Linked DNA regions of Homo sapiens. The protein of the gene in region 4 purifies or fractionates together with the protein of the main gene of each other region. This does not show direct contact. Each region holds a gene or a part of one and is shown on either strand. Other genes may lie near its edges.

Region 1 (7,026 bases), on a different chromosome or scaffold from region 4:
AGGCCGGGACTGGCCGTCAGCGCTGAGCGGCCCCAGCCTGCCCAGGGCCCAGCTGCTGGAGACCCGCAGCTCGTCCCCGGCGGCTCCTAATCACCAGCAGCTCCTGTTTCTCAAACGCAGACATCCGCCCCTCTTGGGGTCAGGCCCTTCCACCTGCAGGCGAGCCGCCCCAGCCCACTCCCGACTGGCGCTGTGCCTCGATCACCGCTCTTGCTCCCAAGTGGACCGCAGGGGAGACGCTCTCTTACGGGGACCCTGGGGGCGCTCACTCTCTGAAGGGCCTGGAAGCTAGATTCCAGAGGCGTGGGCCACCTCTCCCTGGGTTTTGGGGAGCCCCCTCCGAGGGTGTTCATTTCCTGAGCTCTGTGTCATCTTAGGCTCTGAGGGTACGACCAGCATAGACAGACCGCAGCTTCAAGGGGCTGACATTCTCGGGGGAGGAGCGTGGAAAGGATGGACAGGCAACATTAACCAGTACTGACGTAGATTAGGAAGTGGAGGGTGCTACGGGAGAAGTGAGGCAGGGAAGGAGGAGAGGGATGCGGAAGTCAGCAATTTCACAGAAAGCGATCATTGGCTGGGCGGCCCAGGGTGGAGGTGGGCAGAAGGAACTGCAAGCAACAGGGCAGTTTTTCTGACCCCGACTTGGGCCCATGGCTGTGTCCCCTGCGCCCTCTCCGTCCCAGTGTGACTCGCCAAGGCCTGCCAGCTTCCTCAGGCCTCCACTCACCCTTCAGCAGGGCCAGGTACCCTCCAGCCGCGGACCTGCTCGAGGGTGGTGTCGGTGAGCTCGATACGCAGCGGTAGCAGGGGGGCCCACACGGTCAGCCGCAGCGAGGCGCGGAGCCGGCGCCACCAGAAGTCCACTCGCACCCCCCGGGCGCCCCGGCTCTCCTTGCCAGCCACGAACACGGCATCACAGGCCTCAGACACCTATGGAAGGGCAGAGGGCAGGTGGGCGGGCTAAGCCACTAAAGACAGGTGTGAGGCTGGGCCGGGTGGGTGGCTCATGCCTGTAGTCCCAGCACTCTGAGAGGCCGAGGTGGGTGGATCGCTTGAGTCCAGGAGTTTGAGACCAGCCTGGGCAACATGGCAAAACTCCCTCTCTACAAAAAATACAATAAATCAGCCGGGTGTGGTGGCACATGCCTGTAGTCCTAGCTACTGGGGAGGCTGAGGTGGGAGGATCCCTTGAGCCTGGGTAGCTGAGACTGCAGTGAGCCGGACTGTACCATTGCACTCCAGCCTGGGGACAGAGTGAGACTCTGTTTCAAAATAAATAGATTAAAAAAAAAAAAAAGGCATGGGCCAGAAGAGAGCAGCCCTGACCTCAGGCCGTAGGACGGGCTCCCACTGAGTTCAGCTCTGTGTGTCACTGGAATGCATGTTGCAGCAGGATTGTTGGTTAAGCCCCTGTTCTTTGTTTAAGATTTTACTGTAGGGGCCATTCCTTGAGGTTCCCTGGGGCTCAGTCAGGGGAACTGGCCATTGCATACCAGTCTTCCTCCTGGCAGAGCAGGGGTGTGAACCCAAAACTTTGGCTCCTTATTCATGCTGGCCTTTGACATTGCTCTTGGAGCCACCTGGCAACCAGCTACAGCCAGGTAGGCAGAGGTGGGACAAAGCAGATCTCCCACCAAGGCCCTCCAGCAGGAACCACACACATTTGAGCAAAGGACCACAAGTGGGGAAAGGCACCTTCCCCCTTCAGGTGGCTGGGATTTGCATACATGCAGACTCCATGCTTCCCCTCTTAGAACTTCAAGATAGAGGAAGTTGCTCTACCACCCTCCCTTTTATTTCACTTCACAATCACCGGTAATAATAATAATAATAATTTTTACCATTGTATAATTATTACATCATATTATAACAGCAATAACTGCCATTGTTTCAGCCCCTGCTATCTGCTAAATACTGTCTTAAAGTGCTTTTAATTCTTACAACAACCCGAAGATATGTTCTCATTTTAAAGTTTAGGTAACGAGGCTCAGAGAGGTTAAGAGACCAGCCCATGATCACAAAGCTGGTTGACAACAAAGATGTGTTTCAAACTAAAACTTTCTGATCCCAGAGTATGTGCTCTCGACTCTCTCAGGCCAGCGCACTTGCCAGTGCAATAATGAGCGTGAAAGTGTCTAAGGTCGGGGGGCTGTTAGGGTTACTTGACTCGGGAGAGAGGTGGCTGGAACAAAAGAAGTTGAAGCTGTGGTTCCTCCCATGAGGTTTCTCGTCTCAAGAAGAAGCTGTTCTCTTGGGGACCCACATGAGGAAGGAGGAAAGGTGTGTGTGCGTAACTGTGCCCACACAAATGCAGACTCACATGAGCTGGGCACCTGCCACTCACCTGCAGGACCTGTGTGTTGGCAGACTCGCAGCCGACATGCTCTGTCACCTCCACCAAGGCCCCCCCGCCGTCCACAGTGACAAGGCGCACGGGGACATGCTGGGGCACTCCAGTCAGTGGTGCTGTATTCACCAGCTCCTCAGCCTGGGGGTGGAGGAGGGGCTCAGCCCCAGGCCCCTCAGCTCATGGGGCTCCTGGGACTTGGCCTCCAGCCTTCCCAGGCAGAGATGGAGGTCTCCTTACCTTGGCCAGTGGGATAAGGGCTCTGATGTCCCGCTCAGACACCAGGATTTCCCACACCATTTTGTCCTTCTCTGCTTCAGGGGCCTGGCCTGGGTACTCCAGCTGCCACGTGACGGGGCGAGTGACCGCTACGCCCCCACCAGTGCTATTCTCCACCACAAAGTCCACCCATAGGAACTCAGACAGTTCAAGGGGACTGCTGGCCAAAGGAGACAGAGAAGCCAAATGCTTGCTAGCTGCCAGGCATGGCCTCAGCACTTCCTGCATTCATGATTATCCCCATTTTACACAGGAGGAAACTGAGGCACAGAGGTTACATAGCTCACTTAAGACCACACAGCAAAAAGTAGCGGGGCTGGGATCTAAACCCAAGCATCCTCGCTCTAGACCCCAAACTCTGACCCACTCTTGGCCTCTCTAAGATCCATGAAGCCATTTAACCACCTCCCACCTGGCAAGGTGGCTCACTCCCCTGCCTGCCCGGGCCCGCTTCCCCCAGACTTCCGCTTTCCACAGCCACTGAGGTGGCATGCGGGAGATTCACTTCCAGGTCCCAGGACCAGACACTTGACCCTCTGAATGATAAGCTTCCTTTGATCAAACAAAAACCTATGTGCTGGGAACCGTCCTGGGTGCCTGATATGTAGCACTGTATTTTATTTTCAAAAATGCTAAGGGATGCATTATTATTCCTATTTCACAAGTGAAGAAACTGAGGCTTGGGTAGGGGAATGTTAACTGGCTTGCCCAAGGTTTTGCCCATCCCAAAAGCATCAGAACCAGAATTCGAACTGGGGCTACTGAGTCCATGGCCTTGACCCAGGCTCAGGGCATGAATAAGAAGAGTTCACAACCGCAGAACTGCAGCTGGGCTTTTTGGGGGAATGTGAACGGCCCAGAGAAAGGATCATTTGGTGGAAGCAGGGGGATGGAGTAGTGGCTATGAGGGCTCTACCTGGGGCACAGGATTGGTTGGCATCTCTTAGAATAAGACTCACAGACACTTGCTATGCCTGGCACATGGCTGGGGCTGGGAAGATAGTGGCCGAATGAATGAATGAAGGAATGGATTATGCCTGCTTTGTGCTGCTTCCTTGAAAAAATCTGTCCTTGGGTCTGCTCACCTGGGGATCTAGAGGCAGCATGGCAGCCTCCAAATCTGCTCAACTGCACTCTATAACCAGCCCTCCCTCCTTTGCCCCCTGGGTGGAGGGAAACTGCCCACCTGGAATCTGGCTCTGTGAGCCCAGCACGGTGGCAGGTGATGAGGGTGGTGTGGTGCCTGGAGCCCTTGAAGCGGTCCAGCTTGGCAGTCCAGAGTGTGGGCTGGGCTGGGCGGGCGGCTGTCACATGCAGCCCCTTCTTCACCTTGATCCTGGGGAAGAGAGTATAGGCTCAGTTTGGCAAGGTGCATGCTGAACTGTGGGCTGGATTGAAGGGGAAAGACAAGGAGCCAAAGCCATCTGACCTCCCTGGCTCCAGTCTGAATCTCCTCTTCACCATCCTCCAACCCAGAAGGACCCCGCCTCAGTGCAGCTCACACCTTACAGCTCTCCCCCACCCAAAGACCACTTACGCCTCCCCACTGCCCATAAGGTCAAAGCTTAGCCGGGCATTTGGGGGCCCTCCAGGGTCTGGTCCAGCCTTAACTTCGGTTGTGACATCTCTCCATGCACTCTCTGCTTCAGCTACACACAAGTTTCCCACACACACGGCACCCATTCGTGACTCCAAGCCTTTGCCCAGTCTGTGCCTTCAGCCTGCTCTGCCCTTTCTTACTTTACCTGCTGATGCTTTAAGCCTCCAACAACTCACAGACCATTTCCTTTAGAAAGCTTTTCCAGTGGTGGGATGAATTTCCCCCTTACTGCACCCACTCACCTGAGCTCCCACCGCACTTTGAACCTCCCTCAGTGCTTACACACCCACATGCCTTCTAATCCAATTCATGCCCATCCAGCTCCCTTCCCTACCACTGGGGCCCCTTTCTGCCAGATAGGGACTGGCCCTTGCTCGTGTTTGGATCTGCAGAGTGAAGACACAGGGCTTGGCAGGCTGTAAGTGTCTAGGAAAGATCTGCTTAATAAGAGTGAGCATAGGAGGGCGTAGGAGATGGGGAGACACAGAGACGGGACATGCACAAACCCAGGCAGGGCTTGAAACTAGGTCTAGGTTTCAAAGCATGTCCACAGACCGCTCTTCGATCCTCAGGAAAGATATCATTACAAAGTGAGCAAGTCCCAGTGCCTCACCCTAACCAAGCCCAGGACTATCCTGCCTAGAACTCAGGCTTCTCAGAATCTTAAAGCCTAAGAGATGCCTCTCCCATGGATTCCTGCGCTGGACTCCAGAAGCAAGTCATACTCTGCAAGCCCTTGCCGGGTGAACTGGGTAGGTGGGTGGGGGCTGCTTTGGGGGAACTTATTACGGAAAAGGACACAAAGAATCAGGGCCTTCCTATGGGGAAGAGCAAGCTCTGTCCAAAGGCTAGACTCCTACGGCGAGGGTGGCAAGGAGGGACAGCATGTAGGTGAACGTGATTGGGGCAAATATCCCTCTCTGGAGCACTGGAGCAAGAGCTCACACTTAGGTACTGCAGTCTCTAAGCCCTTTGCGGGTTCCCCTCCCTGGAGACTTGCAGCTGCCCTGAAGGTGGACCGTTAGCCCCATTGGACAAAGGAATCTCAGGGAGGTGCCAGGGGAAGGGGCAGCTTCCTACTTCTGACTCTAATTCCAGGGCTGTGCCCATGGTGGGCTCCTACCAGCACAGTCATGGCTTTTTACCTGGAAGGAGTTTAGTTTGGTGGACACATGTTTTGCAGAGGTCAAGGATTCCAGCAAGGACCCCAGGAGGAGCAGGTACCTGTCCCTAGTCTTCCCACAGAGGTTCCCACCCTCACCCATCCCCGTGGCCTGGTGCTCACCGCAGGGTCAGGAGGCTGGCTGTGAAGTTGTGCCGAAGCAGGAGGGTAGCACTAAAGAGCTGGCCGGGCCGCACTGGCATGTCAGGCACCCGCAGAGTCACAGCCTCGTCCAGAGGTACCTCCTGGTACTGCGGGGGGTCTGCTGGGCGCAGCTCCACACCCCCCACTGGGAGGGCCTGCTCCCCAGGGTCGTTCTCCTCGCCGGAGCCACAGCCCCCAGGGCCCTCAGCTGCAGGCTCAAGCGTGTAGGCCAGCTCGGCCCGTGTGGTGGAGGCCTGTGAGAACCAGTGCGAGGGAAGCTCCAGCTCCACCACGCAGGCGCCCAGGGATGGCTGTGAAGACACGACAGCAGTAATTGGCATGGGGGTGGGTGCAGGGCGAGGAACAGGATTCTCAGCACCCATGGCAGGAAACCCAGAGCTGGAGGGGCTCATGAAAGGGAGGCCCAGCATGGGCCGGAGACACAGCCTGAGTGACACAGCAAACCAGCAACCTGGCTGGGGCTTCAAACCAGGTCTAGGTTTCAGAGCATGTCCGCAGACCACTCTTCAGCCCTTGGGATAGGTCTCATTACAAAGTAAGCCAATCCCAGGGCCTTACCCTAACCAAGCCCAGGACTATCCTGCCTAGAATCCAGTCTTCTTCTCAGAATCCTAAAGCTCAAGAGACGCCTCTCCCATGGATTCCTGTGCTAGACTCCAAAATAGTGGAAATAGCAATTATAAAAGTAACACTACTAATAATGCAAACACACTGGCTGATTGATTACTCTGCCGTAAGCTATCCTTACATTCATCTCACTTGTTCCTTACTCCAACTCCAGATGGGGTAGGAATTCTTAACACCCCATTCTTCAGATGAGGAAACTGAATCTCAGAGAGATTAAGTTACTTACTCAAAGTCACACACCAAGGACTGAACTCCCTCTGGGGCCCTAAATAACCTTTTCACAGCACTGAAAGCTAGTGGGGGCAGAAATGGAGTCGGGTGGTCCACAACCCCCGCGCTTCCCAGGAGTGGGGGTTTCCTCTCTGCCGCGGGCCCACCACCTGGCTGATGCAGCTGCAGCAGGACCAGCCTAGGTGGGGCCTGTCTACTCACCTGGAAGCGGCAGGCTTGGTGAGCAGTGCCGGCAGGGTGTGTGGCATGGAGCCGGGCACAGGGCAGGCTGCCAGACCCTGGTGGCCAATCCTGCCCTTTGAGGTGGAAGAGAACCCGGGCGTAGGGCTCTGCTGGAGTCACAGCCGCTTCCACTGAAACGGCCCGCACGTCCCATGGGACTGGCCGTTGGTGGGGCTCAGTGACTCGAGGGGGGACCACCTGGAGGGAGAATGAGAGGGCTTAACAAAAGAGGAGCTTGGGAGGGGAAGATCTAGGAAGATGGGATCCCAGCTTGGCAGAAGAGAACCTTTATGGGCCTCAGTTTCCCCCTCTGGAATATGGGGAGCACAGCCGGGGCTGGGGAAGGCTCCCAATTTGTACCCAGCAGACCTCAGGCCCTGAGTCCTGTTA
Region 2 (7,026 bases), on a different chromosome or scaffold from region 4:
CAATTTGTTGAATAGATTGTGAAGCTCAGAAGGCACAGTAATCTGTGTTGTGCAAACCCTTATCAACTCCATTGGGGATGGCAGCATGTTCAAGAGGCTGAAAAACAGCCAGCAAGTGAGACATGAGGTTTCATTGAGGACCTACGTACAGGGCAGAGAGTCCGGGGGTAGAGGGCTGGGCAAGAGAACTGCAACCGCTTGCAAAAGGCATGCAGTTTATAAAGCATCTTCACTTAGTACTCTCCCACTGACAACCTCCACCTGGCAACCTTCATTTAATCCAAAAACAAAGGGCCTCAATCCCCTCTACGGCCCGTGTTCCACGGGACCGACCTGGGTGTCAGGTCTTCCTCATAGACAAGGAATGGATCTCTGGGCTGGCCACTCCCAGATTCCGTAGCTCAGATTTCCCAGCCACATTGGGGTGTGTGTGCCACCCAGGGTCATTTTGGGGTATGCTGATGTTATCGCTCTCAGGTGTATTTACTTCATAATTTGAAAGGCAAAGTGCTTTTGATTTGAAAAAGCAGGACCCCAGAGTGAAAGAAATTGTTTATCTTTTTAAGTTCCAAAAAGCACTGGTTTGGAAAAATCACAAAACAAGTCATGGAGGCCTAGAACGTAGCATTTACTGACTGAACTATAGGGTTTAGAAAGCATGCCATCCAACTACCTTTAGGGGAAAGAGGGCTTTTGTTACTTCCCAGGCAAAACATCACAAGACTGCAGCTCAATCAGGGGCTGGAGCAATGAGATGCCTGGGTGGAAACTGGCAACAGCTAAGGAAAATCTAGGTAGATAAGCCTGAGGGCAATCACAGAAACCTGAATACCCAGCCTGTGCGTGTCTGAGTCCTAACAGTGGCTCAGAAGCATTTGCTAAAAGGGGACTGAAAGAGGCTAACAGAGGACGAAGAGGGCCCAGGACACAGGGAAATTTTGAGCAGAGGTCACTACACAGACAATGGAACGAGCCACAGAAGCTTGAGCAATGCCCCAAAGGCCACAAGGGACTGAGCTACCCTTTAGTCTGAAGCCAATAATAGCAGATGATGGGTGTGAGCCAGATATCTCTTCCCAGTCGCTGGACAACAGGTAAACCCCTTTCTATTTCATTCCTTGGGAGGGTAGCTACACAGGGTGGAGAAAAAGAGTCTTTTTTCTGAGATGGAGTCTCGCCCTGTTGCCCAGGCTGGAGTGCAGTGGCGCGATATCGGCTCACTGCAACCTCTGCCTCCTGGGTTCAAGCAGTTCTCCTGCCTCAGCTGCCTGCGTAGCTGGGACTACAGGTGCATGCTACCACGGCTGGCTGAGGGGTCTTGAATCTGAATAAATACTTACCTAAATAAGACTAAATCTAAACATAGAAGTGATTGCAAGATCATCATTTTCTACCATGGTGGAAATGGAGGCTTTGAAAGCTAAATGGAATTCATTTCTAGAAAAATGAAGAAAGTTACATGTCTGATTCCTGAATTTGGCCTGCAGCTTTCAATCAACTGTAATAAGAGAATCTAGTCGCCTGCCTCTAAGGCAGTTTCTTCTCTGTAGGTCCTGGGATCTTGCTATGAAGTTAAAAAGGCTTCTTTGAATGGCATTCTTTTTGCTAGAGGATGAGGATCAGGGAAAAATGTTATAGAATCATGAATCACAAGATATCCATATTCCTATTTGAGAGACAGAATTGGCGCCAGAACCCAGGTCTACCAAGATGCATGGATGAACTCTGAAAGCCTCAAGACTCTTGAGGGATAAATTCAACCAAGCAGCATTGACGGGCCTGCCTTAGTAAAGAACATTTACTTCAGAGACAAGACGCACAGCACTGACATGTCTGATTATTATAATTTGCATCAGACTCAGCAAAGTTGTTGACTAGCACATGGCCTCAAGTGAATATTTCTGATTAAGGGAAGAAAAAGACATAATTAAGAGGTAATCGGCTGATGTGGTGGCTCACACCTGTAATCCCACCACTTTGGGAGGCTGAGGTGGGCAGATCACGAGGTCAAGAGATTGAGACCATCTTGGCCAACATGGTAAAACCCCATCTCTACTAAAACTACAAAAATGAGCTGAGTGTGGTGGCACACGCCTGTAGTCCCAGCTACTTGGGAGGCTGAGGCAGGAGGACCGCTTGAACCCAGGAGGTGGAAGTTGCAGTGGGCTGAGATCGTGCCACTGCACTCCAGCCTGAGGGCAGAGTAAGACTCCGTCTCAGAAAAAAAAAGGAAAAGAAAAAAAGAGGTAATCAATTACTAACATTGCACAGACTTTAGCTTCCTTTTCCCTTCCTGCTGCTTTTAAATTTTTTCTCCCTGAAGGGAGTATTCCTGGGGAGAAAAGTTGACTCATGCCTCTGTCCTTCCTGGCTCTCATTTGGGACGTGTTTAGCCTTGGAAGGAAGTCAAAGGACTGGCTATGTGATGGATACATCCTCTATTTCCTTTGCCTCATCAAAGGCACAGCCTTTCTGTCAATTTTCCTGGTACTAAGGGTGGGAAGGAGACCTATGACTACCATAATAAATAGCAGTAACTTTCTAATTGTTTACCTAAAATGCAACCCAGGAGTTGAATTTCATTAATCACCCTGACATTTTTGGGGTAGGAATTACATAAGGGACCTAGATTTTTGAATTATTTTAAATTTGGATATATTATGTATACAAACCTCTCCCCAGTAATAACAACTAACCACCATTGATTAGCATAATGTAACCTAAGAAAATAAATTTAACTAGATGTTCTTGAAATTGCCACAGGTAGGAAGCATTAGTATACGATATAATACCAAATCCACTTTGAGCCCACTATGACGTCTCCATTAGTGTCATAAAAGGTTTATGGCAAATTTATAAGAATATGTTGCGGTATCCTTTTTGTCTAATCCCAGAGGAGAGAAGAAAGCCAAAGGCCTGAAATTAATGATGTATATTTAGGCAGTCAGCTTACTGGATGCTGCCCCAAACCAAAAAATAGCTCTACATATGGAAAATTCCCAATCAGGGGAGGGGCTAGTGGAAAGAGACAAGGTTTTTATAAGTAGTTGAAACTGTCATTTAACTATTAATGACTTCTAAGTATTTATTGAAACCATCTTAAACATAAAAGTGAAAATCAAACCCTAAAACCAAGAAGTCTGATGTTCTCTGCTAAAAAACCTGGACAGTGAAATAATCTTTTAAGACAAATCAATGTCTTCATATAGCATGCACAATACATAAATTACCTGTGCCTCATGGCTTTCCATGTGCCTTCAATGTGAATTAGGTAAATCAAGAATAGTTATGGTTCCTATCATGAACCAGTTCTTTTTTTCTCCACTTTAAAATGTTCAGTCTATCTTTGGAAAACCACAAAATATGGCTGGAAGAGATACATATATTTTTTGAGACAGTCTCACTCTGTCGCCCAGGTTAGAGCTCAGTGGCTCGATCTTGGCTCAGTGCAGCCTCCGCCTCCCGGGTTCAGGTGATTCTTGTGCCTCAGCCTCTAGAGTAACTGGGACTACAGGCATGCATCACCATGCCCAGCTAATTTTTGTATTATTAGTAGAGACGGGGTTTTACCATGTTGGCCAGGCTGGTCTCGAACTCCTGACCTCAACTGATCCACCCACCTCGGCCTCCTAAATACTGATGAGATTACAGGCATGAGCCACCATGATGGGCCAAGCTGGAAAATATTTATGCTTTAAAAACATGAGCTTCATGACAGACACGTTGAGGTTCATGCTATAATAGGAGCTATGAGCTCAAAAGGGTTAAAATAATTTGCGCCAGAAAGGATGCAAGCTGTCTATGTCAGTGCAAGCCGCGGTATTGAGGAGTTTCAAATGAAAACTTGGGTTGTGAAGTTGACAAGTTTTATGTACAATGCAGATTGTTAAGCCATTCTGCCTTTCTATCATTGTCTCTTGACAGGAGAAGGAAGCGTGTGTTTGTCTTTCTTCAAGTTCTCATGAAAGTCGCTCTGGAATCGTACATTAAAAAAGCCTGTGGCATGCTTAAGCTTCAGCCTCATCTGTAGAAGAAAACTGCCTTTGCATGATGCATTTTTCAGAAAATGGACTCTATTTCAGGACGTAGACTCTCACGTGGGAAAAGAAAGAAAACCTTACCTGGGTAATCATTCTTGTCTATGTCTGAATCTCCTCTTAAAGTAAAGCCAAATCCGGAAGGGACAGCATGTGAGGCCCACACTCCTTGCAGAACTTGGGAAGGCTTGGTGTTTAAGCCATCTTTGTTCCCATTATAAATGAGCACTTTGCCTCTTTGATCCTTGCCTGCAAAAGGCACTCCGATGGCAATGTCTAAAAACAGACATAAAACATGTTTTATGTGTATATGTATTTAATTCTTCATTTGTTCATTTTAGAGACAGGACCTTACTCTGTCACCCAAGCTGGAGTGCAGTGGTGGGATCATGGCTCACCGCAGCCCCACACTCCCGGACTCAAGTGATCCTCCTGCCTCAACTTCTCTAGGAGCTGGGACTACAGGTGCATACCACCATGTCAGGCTAATATATATATATATATATATATATATATATATATATATATATATATATATATATATATAGAATTTTTTTTTTTTTTTGAGCAATGGGTCCTTGCTTTGTTGCCCAGGATGGTCTGGAATTCCTGGCCTCAAGTGATCACCCCACCTCAGCCTCCCACACTGTTGGGATTAAAGGCATGAGCCACTGTGCTTGGCCATAGAGACGTTTCTTTTTTAAGTACAGAAGAATGGTTCAGAAATAGTTTAGTATACTCAAAAAGCAGTATCGAAACTCTAAAGGGCTTATAATGTTTTCCATGAAAATTCTGTAGTACTGCTGCAATGACAAATTATTTGTTGCCTTTTATCCATCCAACAAATATTTATTAAGAGCCTCCAGGGCCTGGCGCGGTGGCTCACACCTGTAATCCCAGCACTTTGGGAGGCCGAGGCGGGCGGATCATGAGGTCAGGAGATCGAGACCATCCTGGCTAACACAGTAAAACCCCATCTCTACTAAAAATACAAAAAATTAGCCTGGCGTAGTGGCGGGCGCCTGTAATCCCAGCTACTCGGGAGGCTGAGGCAGAGAATTGCTTGAACCTGGGAGGTGGAGGTTGTGGTGAGCAGTGAGTTGAGATCGTGCCACTGCACTCTAGCCTGGGTGACAGACTCTGTCTCAAAAAAAAAAAAAAAAAAAAAAAAAGATGATCTAAAAACTCAGATTTTTGTAGAAAATAAAGATATTGTCTTGTGTCAGGCGAAAAGGAACACTTTCGACACTTTCTTAACTTTCTCTAAGTCACTGCCTTGACTCCCATCCCCTTGTTTACTCTCAGTGAATTTCACATGATTTTACCTACTTTGTATACTCAAGGACACCAAAGCTCAGAGAAGCTAGGACCTCCCTTTATGTCATTTAGAATGCTTCTTTTATCTTTTAAAAATACTATTAAAGGTTTGAGAGAAAAGACAAATAGAAGAAAATATGATTTTAAACGACAGCTCCATAGATAATTTAGCACTATTTATTTTACTTGAGTGATCAGGAATAGAGCAGCTTTACAGAGTAGCAAGTCACTTAAAGGTAAGCTTGTCTTTTAAAAAATTTCCCTGGAACCATAAGCTTTTTACATGTACTTTGTTTTATGATACTTTAAAATTTACTAACCATATGTTGCTGAGAACTTTTTTTCAAAGAATGTGTAAGAGAACAGAAACATTGGCCAAATATACTAATGAATACTAATCTGATGTGAATACTTCCAAGGCTACTTTGTTACAGCAAGTTCCTGTTACTTCCTTGAGTTCAATCAAGAAATTCACTATGCTCGGTTCTTAACTAAAGAACCTGAAGTGCATTTAAGAAAATGCATACATTTTCAGGTCCTGAAAATGTATGCAAACTTTTGTGTGAAGGTGTGTGTTTTTCTGAGGAGAGGGTACTTGGAGGGGTTTCATAAATTCTAACCTAAAGAACTACAAGCCTAACCTACGAGTTTAACACTACTTTGTTGCAAATATTGAAACTAAGGTGAAGCCTACGTGCCAATTAAAATTCAGTATAACCTGTACATAACCCATGTAGGCTGATCAGAAGTCAGGATACTTGCTAATATATCAACATGTATTTATTTGTCTTGACATATAGAAGGTTTCCTAGTTACCTTTAAGTCACCAAATCCAAACATCAATTTTAAAAATAATTCCTGCCTCTACTGAGAGCTATTACAGGATAGCCAACATCAAATGTGAGAAAATTGCTTGGACGTCAGAGCAATGACGATTTTTGTATTAACTTTGGCTTTAAAGTTTTAATTCTTAAAACTGAATAAGAAATATTTCTGCAAGTAAACAGCACTTATAAGTAGAGAAGTTTAAAGTTGAACATTTGAGATGTTATTTTGAAGTTTGCAGAAACCTAAATGTACTTATTTTTATTGTAACCTGGAGTGCCTGTGGCCTTCCAATGTCTCTTAAAATTCATTTAGAGGTTTTCAAAATGTAGTAACACCCTCAAACCATTACCTGGAGCTCTGAAGACTGAGCTCTGAGGTAGTATGGTTTTGACATTGCTTAATGAGGTTTTTCTGATGTTTCTGATAACCGAATGTGTCTTCTACAAGGAGATCAATTATACTAAATTTAGGATTGAAACAAATTATGTTACAGATTTTTCTCTGTGTTGCATTGTAATCTTGTGAGATTTGAAATAAAAATTTTCAGAAAGGTGAGAAGGGAAATTTCCATGTAATATTTATATTAGTCAAAATGTATAAACGTAAAGCTGCCTTGAGATTTGTGATAGTTTATTAAAAATCAGTAATAATAACTGCACCCACACACACCATACTGAATACTTTAAAACAGGCATGGTCTCCTTTATGCAGTGGTGACGACACATAAATGACTTCCACGCTTTGGTTTAAATTACCATTGTATCCATCTTGGTTCAGGTCTCCTAAGTGTGCCATAGCACTACCGAATCTCCCAAACGTCTCGGTGCCAGTGAGGATCTGGGGG
Region 3 (7,026 bases), on a different chromosome or scaffold from region 4:
TCTTACTGAATGGTGTTTTCTCCTTGAATAGAAACGTGTTCAGTTGATCATCAAATACTTAAAGGACCTTGAAAGCTTGTCTGGCTCTAATTAAAGCACAGCTACTTGGTGATCTTAACAGAAACCTGTCCTCTCTCGGAGAAGTGCAACCTCTTCCACTGCGCTGACAGCTTTGTGGGAAGAGGGAGAACTACAGGAAACAATGAAGAAGTCAGAAGGTGCCTGTTTACCCAAACGTGTCTGCAGCCATGTTCCTGCATACCCCGGTTAGAAGAACCGCTGAAGCACTATGCTATCAGCTTAAAATCTAGGTGACTACAAAACCCTGGAAAGTTTGGCACATAAACTACATTAGGCAAGATCAAGGATGACATTTGTTCTTTGATTAATCATTATCACTGCCATTCAATGTGACCTGCCAAACATACACAACTTACATCTTTACAGCAATCCTAAATCCTAAGATTTAGTGATGTTAGTATGCTTAAAGAACACAAGCCAGTTACTAGCTAGTTCCAAAATCTCAGCCAGAAATATGTGTTAACACTGGATTTGCCACATCTAGAAGCACAATCACTCCAGTTATGGTGTCTAAACGAATGTCTAAAGTTAGGTGAATGGAATGTAATCAGACTATACTAAACTTGGTTCCAAAAGTTATAGAAGTTGTAAAGTTAGTCTAAACTAAAGCACTTAAGTGAAAAAGTGTAACTGCCATATCAGAAAGAAGAGCTCCCACCATGAAAATGTCACTGAATGTATTTTTTATTTTTGAAGGTATTTTTAAAATCTGGGCACACCATATCTATCTGTAGGACCCTGGGTCCAAAGGTCCTACATAACTGATATGAACCATAATTCTCCATATTAACAAAGGCTCGGAAATTGAAACCAAGATCACCTAACTCGCTCACTTTGGCCAATATAGTACGAATTTCAGCTTCTTTACAAGAGAAGAGTCCTGAGATGTTAATATGCAGCAATTCTGCTGATGTGCATTTTAACTTTATGCACCAAGGAAGAAAGGCTAAGGAATTCACAAAAGTAAAATCACCCCCTGAAAAACAGATGCTGGTGATTGGAGAAAAAAGAGCAGTAGAATTAAGGTGTTTTATAAACCAGAGAGTGTTTTGTTTCTGATAGGTAAAGGGATTTCTTCATATGTTATTTTAATAAAAGGGAATTTCATAGGTAAAAACCAATATTCAAAATTATAAAACAAATAGAACTGTTTGTGCACAATCACTGCATCAAAAATTTGCAAGAGACTCAACAGAAATTCTTTAGTTGGCAAATGTGGTTTGAAGGGGTAATAAAATCTTTTTATGGCTAAACCAAGAGTCTTGTTTCCTGTTGGCCCAAAAACAGATGTTTCATTTCCCAGATAAGTAGGTTCTCCACTGTAAAGAAATATTCTTGTATAGTTGGTTTCTATGTTCTTGAACTCTGCTCCAAATTCAGCCAACTTGTTAAAGGTCCTTAACACAAATTTGGAACAGTCGTAGGAATCAAACCATGTCTCTGCCCCCTTTTCTGGGCTGGCTTTTACATTCCATGTCTCATAATAAATTCCTGTTTCATTGTCCTGTTTCACCCACTTTGCCATTTGGTTGAACATGTTTCCTAGTTTAAAAAAACAAAACAAAGTCACCTAGTGAACAAAGCTAATCATGTTAATTTTTTTTTTTTTTTTTTTTAAGACAGGTCTCCCTCTGTTGCCGAGGCTAGAGTGCGGTGGTAACATCACAGCTCACTGCAGCCTTGACCTCCTGGGCTTAAGTGATCCTCCCACCTCGGCCTCCTGAGTAGCTGGGACTACAGGCGCTGGCCACCAAACCCAACTAATTTTTTAATTTTTCTTTTTTTTAATTTGAGACCAGCCTGGGCAACACGGGGTCTTGCTGTATTGCCCAGGCTGGTCTCAAATTCCCAACCTCAAGTGATCCTCCTGCTTCAGCATTCTAAAGCACTGGGATTATAGGTTTGAGCTACCATGGCTGGCCTAATCATATTAATTTTAAGTAAAATGTTCTAACTTGATTAAGACTGGATGCCTGAGTAAACAATGGTTTTGAATTTCCACACCTGCATTTCACAACAGGAATCCAAGCTCAGCCAATTTTATTCCATTCTTCAAGGCACAAGATATTTCTGAATTATAAACATTAGATATAATAGGTGTATAAGGAGAAGTCATCTTACATACTAATTCTATAATCATTTAAGCTATAGTCAAAGCGAAATTATACAAATGCAGAAGCTCTCTTTCTCTACCCAACTCACCAAATCTTGGATTCAGAGGCAAAAGAGAAAAGGAAAGCACAAAAAGAATTGCGAAAGAGGAAAAGCAGAATGGGCAAAGACAGTGTAAGGAAAATGGAGGTGTGGGAAATGTGGAGCTTCACTGTTGCAAAGCATGCTACACATAAAGTATGAATGGCTGCCTGAGGAGCCACTGCTCTAGAAGGCTGGCTATTACTGTTATGAGAACAAGCACCATACCCCATCCACCTTGTGTGTTTGGTACGTTTCTTTCTTCCCTGTACTTGGAGTTGCTGGGATGCTGCTGATGACCTCTCCACCTGCCACGTTAAGTCCTTCCAACAAATCAACTAAACTGGAAATGTTTTAGGCCGAGTTCATACTCCAGGATGGCTAACCCTCTCTTCTACCATCTTGTACTAGACCAGAAGAATCTTTCCAAATATTCAGAAAACACTACTCTGCATGGTTACAACTCTCATCTTGGGCATTTATAATGCCTAATAGAACTGGGCCCCAAACACTGCATCCTGTCACTGTGTGCAAACCTCTTTGGTTACTCCAACTTGAGTCCATAAAATAAATACTTCATGTTCTGTAAAATGAATAGAGTGACTGCCTTTATCAATTTTATGGAATTAAAATTGTAGAACAGAATAAAGCCTGTTGTATTAGAACTGGGGATACTGTTCTTAGCATTCTTCAACTTTCAAATGCCACCACTATCCTTATGAGACAAGAATGCTTCAAAACACTATTTTGTCAATCACAGGATTATTCACAAGGCAAATAAATGACTTAAAAGATTTAAGTACTGGCATATTTTGAACTATTTTACAAAAAATAGTGATCACTTATTCATATGATCATTGACTTTATGTCAGAAGGAAGGATTTTCAGATAACGATGTAGGTGGAAATGGGGAAAGGTGTGAACTGGCCTGGAATGAAAGAAAGAACCGCTAATGATGGACTTTTGTATTGTTGGTATGGTTTAAGGCACATTGATTAGAAAGTAGCAGGAAATATTAGAAAACAACATGGTGCATTCGGCTAACAGATCCTTGTTACATTTAAAAGACCTCAGTTTTATTCCTGATTCTGCTACATCCAGCTCTTTGACCTTGAGAGGCAAGTAAGTCATGTTACCTGGCTGAGCCTCAATTCCTTATTTGCAGAGAATGAGTATCTTATCCTCTCCACTGAACCGTGAGTTAACATACCTCCAAATCATTTGTAAAGAGCTATACAAATAGGAAGCATGATTACTTCCTCAAGTCCTGGGGTTCACTGAATAATTATTGTCACAACAGTGCTTTCATTTCAGATGTTTCTACTGTTCTGGGGAACAGCAATTTATAATGTAATGCTTCATAAATCATATGGACAAGCTCCTTACTTCTCAAATGCTATGGTATATTGTCTCCATTTTGCACATGAGGCAACGGGCCAATAAGATATAAAATGTGACCCAAGTCACATAAGGAGTTACCAATGAAAGGATTGCTGAACTCTTTTCATTACTAACCAACAATGCAGCACTTGCAACACAATTCCAACTTTCAGCAACTTTCCAATACATCCAAAAGAAGAAAAAAATCTCAAAGATAAAATATTTAAACTGCTCAAGAGGGTCTCAAATATAAGATCATATACATTTTGGGAGGCAATGTATCAAAGTAGTTAGGAGAATGGGCAATGGGGCGTAACTGCCAGGGTTGGAGTCCCACTTACTAAGCTGTGTAACTTTAACCTCTCTGTGCCTCAGTTTCTCCATCTGTAAAATAGGCAAAATAATAGTTACTACCTCCAGAAGTTGTGATGATGAATGATGTGATGTATGTACAGTACTCAGAACAGTGCCAGAACCAGTCTATATTAGTAGCTATTATTTTTCAACATAAAAATATCATCACTAAAATTTTTTTCAGATATAGTTAACATATCCTTTAATCAGGCATTTTATGGATTTCTCTTACTATTTCGTTTAGAAAGACCAATTTAATTGTACAAAATGTTTTATCATTTTATTCATTTTTATGATGGGAAAAGAGCATTTTTAGGGAAACATTCAAAGATCAGAGATAAGCTACTCATCACCAACAGGTGAAGTTCTGCATGAGTAATAGTTTGGGTCAGAGTTTAGTGGTTCCACCAAAAGCAAATGCAACAAAAACAAATATAAATAGATGAGACTTAATTAAACTAAAAAGCTTCTGCACAGCCAAAGGAACAATCAGCAGAGTAAATAGACAACCCACAGAGTGGGAGAAAATCTTTGCAATCTATACATCTGACAAAGGACTAATATCCAGAATCTACAAGGAACTCAAATCAGCAAGAAAAAAACAATCCCATCAAAAAGTGGGTTAACGGCCGGGAGTGGTGGCTCACACCTTTAATCCCAGCACTTTGGGAGGCCAAGGTGGGCAGATGACCTGAGGTCAGGAGTTTGAGACCAGCTGGCCAACATGGCGAAACCCCATCTCTACTAAAAATACAAAAATTAGCTTGGCATGGTGGCGGGCGCCTGTAATCCCAGCTACTTGGGACGCTAAGGCTGGAGAATCGCTTGAACCCAAGAGGTGGAGGTTGCAGCAAGCTGAGATTGTGTCATTGCACTCCAGCCTGAGCGACAAGAATAAAACTCCACCTCAAACAAACAAACAACAACAACAAAAAGGCGGGGTGGGGGTGGCTAAGGACACAAATAGACAATTCTCAGAAGATATACAAATGGCCAAGAAACATGAAAATGCTCAGGGAAATGCAATGATCAGGGAAATGCAAATCAAAACCACAATGTAATACCGCCTCACTCCTGCAAGAATGGCCATAATCAAAAAATAAAAAAAAATAGATATTGGCGGGATGTGGGGGAAAGGGAACACTTCTTCTCTGCTGCTAGGAATGTAAATTAGTACAACCACTATGGAAAACAGTGTGGAGATTCCTTAAAGAACTAAAAGTAGAACTGCCATTTGATCCAGCAATCCCAGTACTGGGTATCTACCCAAAGGAAGAGAACTCATTATACGCAAAAAATACTTTCCCATGCATGTTTATAGCAGCACAATTTGCAACTGCAAAAATATGGAACCAGCTCAAATGCCCATCAATCAATGAGTGGATAAAGAAAATGTGGTGTATATATACCAAGGAATAATACTACTCAGCCATAAAAAGGAATGAAATAATGGCATTTGCAGCAACCTGGAATAATGGTCTCCAATTCCATCCAAGTGAAGTAACTCTTCAGGAATAGAAAACCAAACATTGTGTATTCTCACTTGTAAGTGGGAGCTAAGCTATGAGGATGCAAAGGCATAAGAATGATTAACTTTGGGAAGTCGGGGAAAAGGGTCGGAGAGGGGTGAGGGATAAAAGACTATACATTGGGTACAGTGTACACTGCTCGGGTGATGGGTGCGCAAAAATCTCAGAAATCACCACTAAAGAACTTATTCATGTAACTTAACATAACCAGTTCCCCACAAACCTATTCAAATAAAATAAATAAAAAATACAAATAAGAGATGAAAAAAATTCCCAAAGTTTAATGGTTCCAAAAGTACATTTTACAAATGACCTCTAAGTAAAACATTACTGAAATGTTTCAATGGAAGTATAACAATTTCTTTCATTTGGTTTTTGATGCAATGATCAAATATTGCTATATTTTCACAACTTACCTGATATAGTTGCTACTTGAACTAATGTCCCATTTTCCTTCCAGTGAACATCATCAATTCCCTCAAAAAAGCAGGCAGCGCCTTGATTACACCAGAAAGGGGCATCCATTTCAGGTCGGAGATGGGGAAATGTACAGTTGCCAAGTTGGAAAAGTTCATACCATTCCATTGTGTAGTTCTTGCCAGTTAATGTACTTCTGAATCCAATGGCATCATGCATAATTTTCTGTGTAAAGACAGTACATGTATAAAAGCAACTGTGACACAACCATGGGTCCAGGTAACCTGATAGGAGAAAATGTGGCACATCACAAATGCATATCAAGTAGAACAACTGTTCAGCTGTTCTTCCATGCTGCTACTGTCATATCCACTCTGTGGCCCCAAACTCCAGGCCCTCATCCACCCCAGCTTTGGCCACTACACCCCTATTTGGCTCATCTCAAATAGGAGGCCTGCATGTTATGTGGACAAGCTGATAATTTCCTTAGAGCTTAGAATAAGTGTGAGGAGCCCCCATGCCAGTCTCTGGAAGCAGCTCTACAGACCTCACATGGTGATGGGTTAACCTGGAAAAGTGACTACAACAGAGTATGGAAATCAAGAGGTGTTACCTGCCTGCCCTGCCACTTCTGGGCCTCTTCTCACCTTCCAGGAGCTAGGTACAGGAGCTGGTTTCAGATTCATAATATTACAATGGATAATGGTGATTACATTTGTTGTTGTCAAGATTACAAAATCTGATAGTAACTATTTTTGACTACTCATTTTAAATGTACTAAGACAAACACCAACATGATCTAAAGTCAGCCATCTAAATAGTGATTACTCCTTAAAAATCAACTTAATAACCAAATCATTGAATTAACCAAAGTTATAAGACCAAGATGCATCCTTACCAAGTGTCCCAGGAGGTCTCCATATTTAAATTCCCATACTGGGGCTTGTAATCGAAAAACTTCAATGTCATCATCACCCTCCATAACTGGGATAGGTGAGCCAGTTGGACAGAAAGTATACTTAGCTTGACAATAAGGATCAGGTTTTGGACGGAAGTCAAAGCGCCTAATAAA
Region 4 (7,026 bases):
CTAAAAATACAAAAATTAGCTGGGAGTGGTGGCGTGTCCCTGTAGTCCCAGGGACCTGTGAGGCTGAGGTGAGGGGATCACTTGAACCCAGGAAGTGGAGGTTGCAGTGAGCTGAGATCGGGCCACTGTACTCCAGCCTGGGTGACCAAGCGAGACTCCGTCTCAATTAAAAAAAAAAAAAAAGTGTGGGCTGGGCATGGTGGCTCACGGCTGTAATCCCAGAACTTTGGGGGGCTGAGGCGGGTGAATCACGAGGTCAGGAGTTCGAGACCAGCCTGACTAACATGGTGAAACCCCACCTCTACTAAAAATACAAAAATTAGCCAGCCATGGTGGCACACGCCTGTAATCCCAGCTATTGGGGAGGCTGAGGCAGGAGAATGGCTTGAACCTGGGAGGCGGAGGTTGCAATGAGCCGAGATTGCACCATTGCACTCCAGCCTGGGTGACAGAGCAAGATTCTATCTCAAAAAAAAAAAAAAAAAAAGGTATTTACACATGTAATGGATGTTCATGAGGAAATGTAGACAGATGGGCTCTGTGTTGCCTGTCTGAGGTTTTATGCATAACTTATGCATAGGAATTCATGCAAATGTCAAGACTGACAATAACTGTGCTTCCCTTGTCCTCCTCCTTAACCCCTCACCCTCAGCAAGCTCCCCTCACACTAATGGCTGGCGCTGACTCATTGCAACAAAGTGTCCCAATAGTAACAGAGTGGGTTTGAGTAAAATGGAACTGTTGAATTAAAAACTGAAATACTAAGAAAAATTTATTTTAATCTTTTTTTGACCCCAAATTATGCTGCTTGGCAATTCAGATGTAGTAGACACATGCTATATAGGGGTCTTTATTTATTTATTTATTTATTTCGGACAGGGTCTTATTCTGTCATCCAGGCTGGAGTGCAGTTGTGTGATCATAGCTTACTGCATCCTCAAACTCCTCGGCTCGGGGGATTCCCCTGCTTCAGCCTCCTGAGTAGCTAGAACCACAGGGGTGCGCCACCTCACTGGGTTAATTTTTAAAATTGTTGTAGAGATGGGGCCAGGCGTGGTGGCTCACGCCTGTAATTCCAGCACTTTGGGAGGCCAAAGTGGGTGGATCACCTGAGGTCAGTAGGTCGAGACCAGCCTGTCCAACATGGTGAAACCCCGTCTCTACAAAAATACAAAAAAATTAGCTGGGCATGGTGGTGGGCACCTGTAACCCCAGCTACTTGGGAGGCTGAGGTAGGAGAATCGCTTGAACCTGGGAGGCAGAGGTTGCAGTGAGCCGGGATCGTGCCGTTGCACTCCAGCCTGGGCGACGAGCGAAGCTGTGTCTCCACAAAAAAAAAAAAAAAAACATTTTGTAGAGATGGGGTCTTGCTATATTGCCCAAGCTGGTCTCAAACTCCGGGGCTCAAGTGATCCTCCCTTGATGTTTCAGATATCTGGGTGTTTTTTAGTTCTATTTTTATTTTTATTTTGTATTTTGTATCATTTATTTATTTATTTATTTGAGACGGATTTTTGCTCTCATTGCCCAGGCTGGAGTGCAATGGTGCAATCTCGGCTAACCATAACCTCTGCCTCCCAGGTTCAGGTGATTCTCCTGCCTCAGCCTCCTGAGTAGCTGGGATTATTACAGGCATGCGCCACCACGCCCAGCTAATTTTCAATTTTTTTTTTTTTTTTTGAGACGGAGTCTCACTCTGTTGCCCAGGCTGGAGTGCAGTGGCGTGATCTCAGCTCACTGCAAGCTCCGCCTCCCAGGTTCAGGCCATTCTCCTGCCTCAGCCTCCCGAGTAGATGGGACTACAGGTGCCCACCACCACACCTGGCTAATTTTTTGTATTTTTAGTAGAGACGGGGTTTCACTGTGTTAGCCAAGATGGTCTCAATCTCCTGACCTCGTGATCTGCCCACCTCGGCCTCCCAAAGTGCTGGGATTACAGGTGTGAGCCACCGCGCCCGGCTCTAATTTTGTATTTTTAATAGAAACGGGGTTTCTCCATGTTGGTCAAGCTGGTCTCGAACTCCCGACCTAAGGTGATGCGCCCGCCTCTGGCTCCCAGAGTGCTGGGATAACAGGCGTGAGCCACCGCACAGAGCCCTAATTTTTATTTTTTGTAGTGACAGGGTCTCACTATGTTGGCCAAGCTGGTCTCGAACTCCTGGACTCAAGTAATCCTCCTGCCTGGCCTCCCAAAAGTGCTGGGATTACAGGCATAAGCCACTGTGCCCAGCTGAGGATGAATATTTTGGAAGTACATTCATTCTTTTTTTGGAGATGGAGTCTCGTTCTGTTACCCAGGCTGGAGTGCAGTGGTGAGATCTCGGCTCACTGCAACCTCCACCTCCCAGGTTCAAGCAATTCTCCTGCCTCAGCCTCCTGAGTACCTGGGACTACAGGCATGTGCCACTATGCCCGGCTAATTTTTTTTGTATTTTTAGTAGAGATAGGGTTTTACCATGTTAGCCAGGCTGGTCTTGAACTCCTGAACTCCAGTGATCTGCCCACCTTGGCCTCCCAAAATGCTGAGATTACAGGTGTGAGCCGCGACACCCGGCCTGAGGTACATTTATTATTAAAGTTTTAAGTTACACTATACTTAGGTCTATTTCCTGTGGCCCAGTGTGGTCCCTTCCCAGTTCTAGCACAAATTTTAATCAAGTACCCCTGTTGTCAGGAGACATTTAATATTTTCTAGAGGTTTGCAGGCTTTTTCTATAAAGGCCAGATGGTAAAATATTTTTGGCTTTGTAAGCCTAATGATCTCTGTCATGACAACTTAACTCTGCCACTGGTACTGGCGAGCAGCCACAGACAACATATAAATGAACAGAGTGAGGCTGCATTCCAGTAAGACTTCATTTATGCACACTGAAATCTAAATTTCATATAATTTTCATGTATCACAAAATATCATCTTGTATTGATTTTTTCCAACCAGTTAAAAACGTAAAAAACATTTTTAGTTCACAGGTTATATAAACACAGGCAGTGGGCCAATTTGGCCCACGGCCAAGGTTTACTGAGTACTGAAGGATTCAAAACACAGGTTGAGGCCAGGCGTGGTGGCTCACGCCTGTAATCCCAGCACTTTGGAAGGCCAAGGTGGGTGGATCACCTGAGGTCAGGAGTTCGATACCTGCCAGGAGTTCGAGACCAGCCTGACCACCATGGTGAAACCCCATCTTGGCCGGGTGCAGTGGCTCACGCCTGTAATCCCAGCACTTTGGGAGGCTGAGGTGGGCGGATCACCTGAGATCGGGAGTTCAAGACCAGCCTGACCAACATGGAGAAACCCCGTCTCTACTAAAAATACAAAAATTAGCTGGGCATGGTGGTGCATGCCGGTAATCCCAGCTACTTGGGAGGCTGAAGCAGGTGAATCCCTTGAACCTGGGAGGAGGAGGTTGCAGTGAGCCGAGATCATGCCATTCCACTCCAGCCTGGGCAACAAGAGCGAAACTCTGTCTCAAAAAAAAAAAAAACCCATCTCTACTAAAATACAAAAAAATTAGCCAGGTATGGTGGCACATGCCTGTAATCCCAGCTACTCAAGAGGCTGAGATAGGAGAATCACTTGAACCCAGGAGGCGGAGATTGCAGTGAGGCGAGATCAAGCCATTGCCATTGCACTCCAGCCTGGTTCACAAGAGTGAAAACTCGGGCTCGAAACAAAAACAAAAACAAAAACAAAAACAAAAACAAAAACAAACAAACAAAAAAACTACACAGGTTGAGCATCCCAAATCAAAAAATCGCAAATCTGAAGTGTTCCAAAACCCAAAACTTTTAGAATCAACATGATGCTCAAAGGAAATGCTCATCAGAGCATTGTGGATTTCAGATTTTTCAGATTAGCGTTGTTCAACCAGTAAGGATAATGCAAATAATCCAAAATCCAAAAAAAATTTCCAAAATCCAAAACACTCTGGTCCCAAACATTTCAGATAAGGTATCCTTACCCTGCATGAGGGCAACATTAATGGTGAATAAATAACTTCTTCAGGAACACAACAGACTGGTACAGTTGCCTTTTTATATTAATTAGGCTTAATAGTGCTTGGATCCGATACACTCAATACTACTACAAACCTTGGATCCGATATACTCAATACTACTACCTTCACTACATTAGCAAAGTCTTAGTCTAAAGATCCTGTGAAGTGGGAGGGTTTTCAAAGTCACTAGAAGTGGTTGTGTTGCACCACGTAAACTCACCAAACATAATATAGTACTGCGATTTTCCATTCAGGTTCTTCTGGTCAATGTCTGCAGGAAAGACCTTAATGTAGCCCCCTCCACAGTCCATCTTCTGCTCATGTTTTACTGTGTACTGAATAACCAGAGTTTTCCCTTTATTGCTGAACGGTTTGAAGCGTGCAGAGATGGCATAGAATCGGCCATTCTGAGTGGTTTGCAGACCTTTGAACAAAATATACTCATGAAGGATCAGGAATGACGCTGCGCTAAGTAACGCAGGAAGTTAAATCGATGTCCTTCCCTTACTCCCAAACATAAATGTCCTAACCATTTACAGTGATCTACAGTGCCAACAGAGCATTATACAATAATGCATAATGGGTAGACCACTAGCAGGCACTCTGCTTCTATATAATTTTTTTTTTTTGACATGGAGTCTCACTCTGTCGCCCAGGCTGGAGTGCAATGGCGTGATCTCGGCTCACTGCAACCTCCACCTCCCGGGTTCAAGTGATTCTCCTGCCTCAGCCTCCTGAGTAGTTGGGATTACAACTACAATTAGCCACCACGCCAGGCTAATTTTTGTATTTCTAGTAGAGATAGGGTTTCTCCATGTTGGTCAGGCTGGTCTTGAACTCCTGACCTCAGGTGACTGCCCGTCTCAGCCTCCCAAAGTGCTGGAATTACAGGTGTGAGCCAGCGTGCCTGGCCCATACAACTTTTATTTCACACACCTGGAAGTTTTTGTTCTTAATATACCACTGTTCTTAATTAGTTAATTAATTATTTTTTGAGATGGAGTCTCGCTCTGTCGCCCAGGCTGGAGTGCAGTGGCACGATCTCTGCCCACTGCAAGCTCCACCTCCTGGGTTCACGCCATTCTCCTGCCTCAGCCTCCCGAGTAGCTGGGACTACAGGCGCTGGCCACAACACCCAGCTAATTTTTTGTATTTTTAGTAGAGACAGGGTTTCACCATGTTAGCCAGGATGTTCTCGATCCCCTGACCTCATGATCCGCCTGCCTCGGCCTCCCAAAGTGCTGGGATTACAGGCGTGAGCCACCGTGCCCGACTGGTCCCTTTCCTAAACATTCTACTCTGCCTTTTCAGCATAAAAGGCAGCCATAGACAATATATAAATGAATGGACTGCCAGGCATGCTGGCTCACGCCTGTAATCCCAGCACTTTGGGAGGCTGAGGCAGGCGGATCACGGGGTCAGGAGTTTGAGACCAGCCTGGCCAACATGGTGAAACCCTATCTCTACTAAAAATACAAAAATTAGCGGGGTGTGGTGGCATGTGCCTGTAGTCCCAGCTACTCAGGAGAGTGAGGCAGAAGAATCGCTTAAACCCAGGAGGCGGAGGTTGCAGTGAGCCGAGATTGCACCGCTGCACTCCAGCCTGGGTGACAGAGTGAGACTCCGTCTCCAAAAAAAAAAGAATGGATGTGGCTGTGTTCCAGTGAAACTTAATGGACACTAAACTTTCTTTCTTTCTTTTCTTTTTTCTTTTGAGACAGAGGCTCGCTCTATTGCCCAGACTGAATCTCTGCTCACTGCAACCTCCGCCTCCCAGGTTCAAGCGATTCTCCTGCCTCAGCCTCCTGAGTAGCTGCGACTACAGGCGTGCGACACCATGCCTGGCTAATTTTCATATTTTTAGTAGAGATGGGGTTTCACCACGTTGCCCAGGCTGGTCTTGAACTCCTGGCCTCAAGTGATCCACTCACCTTGGCCTCCCAGAGTGCTAAGATTACAGGTGTGAACCACTGTGCCTGGCCTAAACTTTCACATATGTGAAAGCAAATACAATTTAAAGCCTTGAGAGGCCAGGCATGGTGGCTCACATCTGTAATCTCAACACTTTGGGAGGCTGAGCCGGGTGGATCACTTGAAGTCAGAAGTTCGAGACCAGCCTGGCCAACGTGGGGAAACTCCATTTCTACTAAAAATACAAAATTAGCCGAGCGTAGTGGCGCGTGCCTGTGGTCCCAGCTACTCGGGAAGCTCAGGCAGCTGAACTGTTTGAACCTGGGAGATGGAGGAGCCATTGCACCCCAGCCTGGGTGGCAGGGCGAAACTCCGTTTAAAAAAATAAATAAGCCAGACGCAGTGGCTCACGCCTGTAATTCCAACACTTTGGGAGGCCGAGGCGGGCGGATCACCTGAGGTTGGGAGTTGGAGACCAGCCTGACCAACATGGAGAAACCCTGTCTCTACTAAAAATACAAAATTAGGCCGGGCGCGGTGGCTCATGCCTGTAATCCCAGCACTTTGGGAGGCCGAGGCGGGAGGATCACGAGGTCAGGAGATCGAGATCATCCTGGCTAACACGTGAAACCCTGTCTCTACTAAAAAAAAAAAAATACAAAAAATTAGCCGGGCGTGGTGGCAGGCGCCTGTAGTTCCGGCTACTCGGCAGAAGAATGGCGTGAACCCAGGAGGCAGAGCTTGCAGTGAGCCGAGATCGCGCCACTGCACTCCATCCTGGGCTACAGAGCGAGACTCCGTCTCAAAAAAAAAAAAAAAAAAATTAGCCAGGTGTGGTGGCACATGCCTGTAATCTTAGCTACTTGGGAGGCTGGAAGCAGGAGAATCATTTGAACCTGGGAGGCGGAGGTTGTGGTGAGCAGAGATCACGCCATTGCACTCCAGCCTGGGTAACAAGGGTGAAACTCTCTCTCAAATAAATACATAAAATAAATAAAAACCTTGAGCAAGTTGTGTGATCTGAGTCATGCAGCATGCAGGTGTAACCTCTGCTTCTTAAATCATAGATAAACCTTCTTCCTCATTGTTCTTGTTTGGCAAATGACTAGGACAAACCAGA

Evidence for each region.
Region 1: the proteins of CALR3 (region 4) and TMEM132A purify together in Homo sapiens (affinity purification with mass spectrometry; 3 studies listed by BioGRID and IntAct, with this or other methods). This does not show direct contact.
Region 2: the proteins of CALR3 (region 4) and ITGA8 purify together in Homo sapiens (affinity purification with mass spectrometry; 2 studies listed by BioGRID and IntAct, with this or other methods). This does not show direct contact.
Region 3: the proteins of CALR3 (region 4) and CLN5 purify together in Homo sapiens (affinity purification with mass spectrometry; 2 studies listed by BioGRID and IntAct, with this or other methods). This does not show direct contact.

The regions. Positions count from the first base shown.
Region 1 is NC_000011.10:60,927,449-60,934,474, reverse strand, and holds part of TMEM132A (transmembrane protein 132A isoform b precursor), read right to left. Parts: intron 6,835-7,026; coding exon 6,616-6,834; intron 5,847-6,615; coding exon 5,515-5,846; intron 3,966-5,514; coding exon 3,816-3,965; intron 2,790-3,815; coding exon of another isoform or gene 2,787-2,789; coding exon 2,591-2,786; intron 2,492-2,590; coding exon 2,348-2,491; intron 934-2,347; coding exon 731-933; intron 1-730. UniProt on the Homo sapiens protein: May play a role in embryonic and postnatal development of the brain. Increased resistance to cell death induced by serum starvation in cultured cells. Regulates cAMP-induced GFAP gene expression via STAT3 phosphorylation.
Region 2 is NC_000010.11:15,639,909-15,646,934, forward strand, and holds part of ITGA8 (integrin alpha-8 isoform 1 preproprotein), read right to left. Parts: coding exon 6,938-7,026; intron 4,314-6,937; coding exon 4,122-4,313; intron 1-4,121. UniProt on the Homo sapiens protein: Integrin alpha-8/beta-1 functions in the genesis of kidney and probably of other organs by regulating the recruitment of mesenchymal cells into epithelial structures.
Region 3 is NC_000013.11:76,995,055-77,002,080, reverse strand, and holds part of CLN5 (bis(monoacylglycero)phosphate synthase CLN5), read right to left. Parts: intron 7,019-7,026; coding exon 6,853-7,018; intron 6,180-6,852; coding exon 5,954-6,179; intron 4,039-5,953; coding exon of another isoform or gene 4,010-4,038; exon of another isoform or gene 3,996-4,009; intron 1,624-3,995; coding exon 1,112-1,623; 3' UTR 1-1,111. UniProt on the Homo sapiens protein: Exhibits palmitoyl protein thioesterase (S-depalmitoylation) activity in vitro and most likely plays a role in protein S-depalmitoylation.
Region 4 is NC_000019.10:16,486,152-16,493,177, forward strand, and holds part of CALR3 (calreticulin-3 precursor), read right to left. Parts: intron 4,420-7,026; coding exon 4,216-4,419; intron 1-4,215. UniProt on the Homo sapiens protein: During spermatogenesis, may act as a lectin-independent chaperone for specific client proteins such as ADAM3. Required for sperm fertility. CALR3 capacity for calcium-binding may be absent or much lower than that of CALR.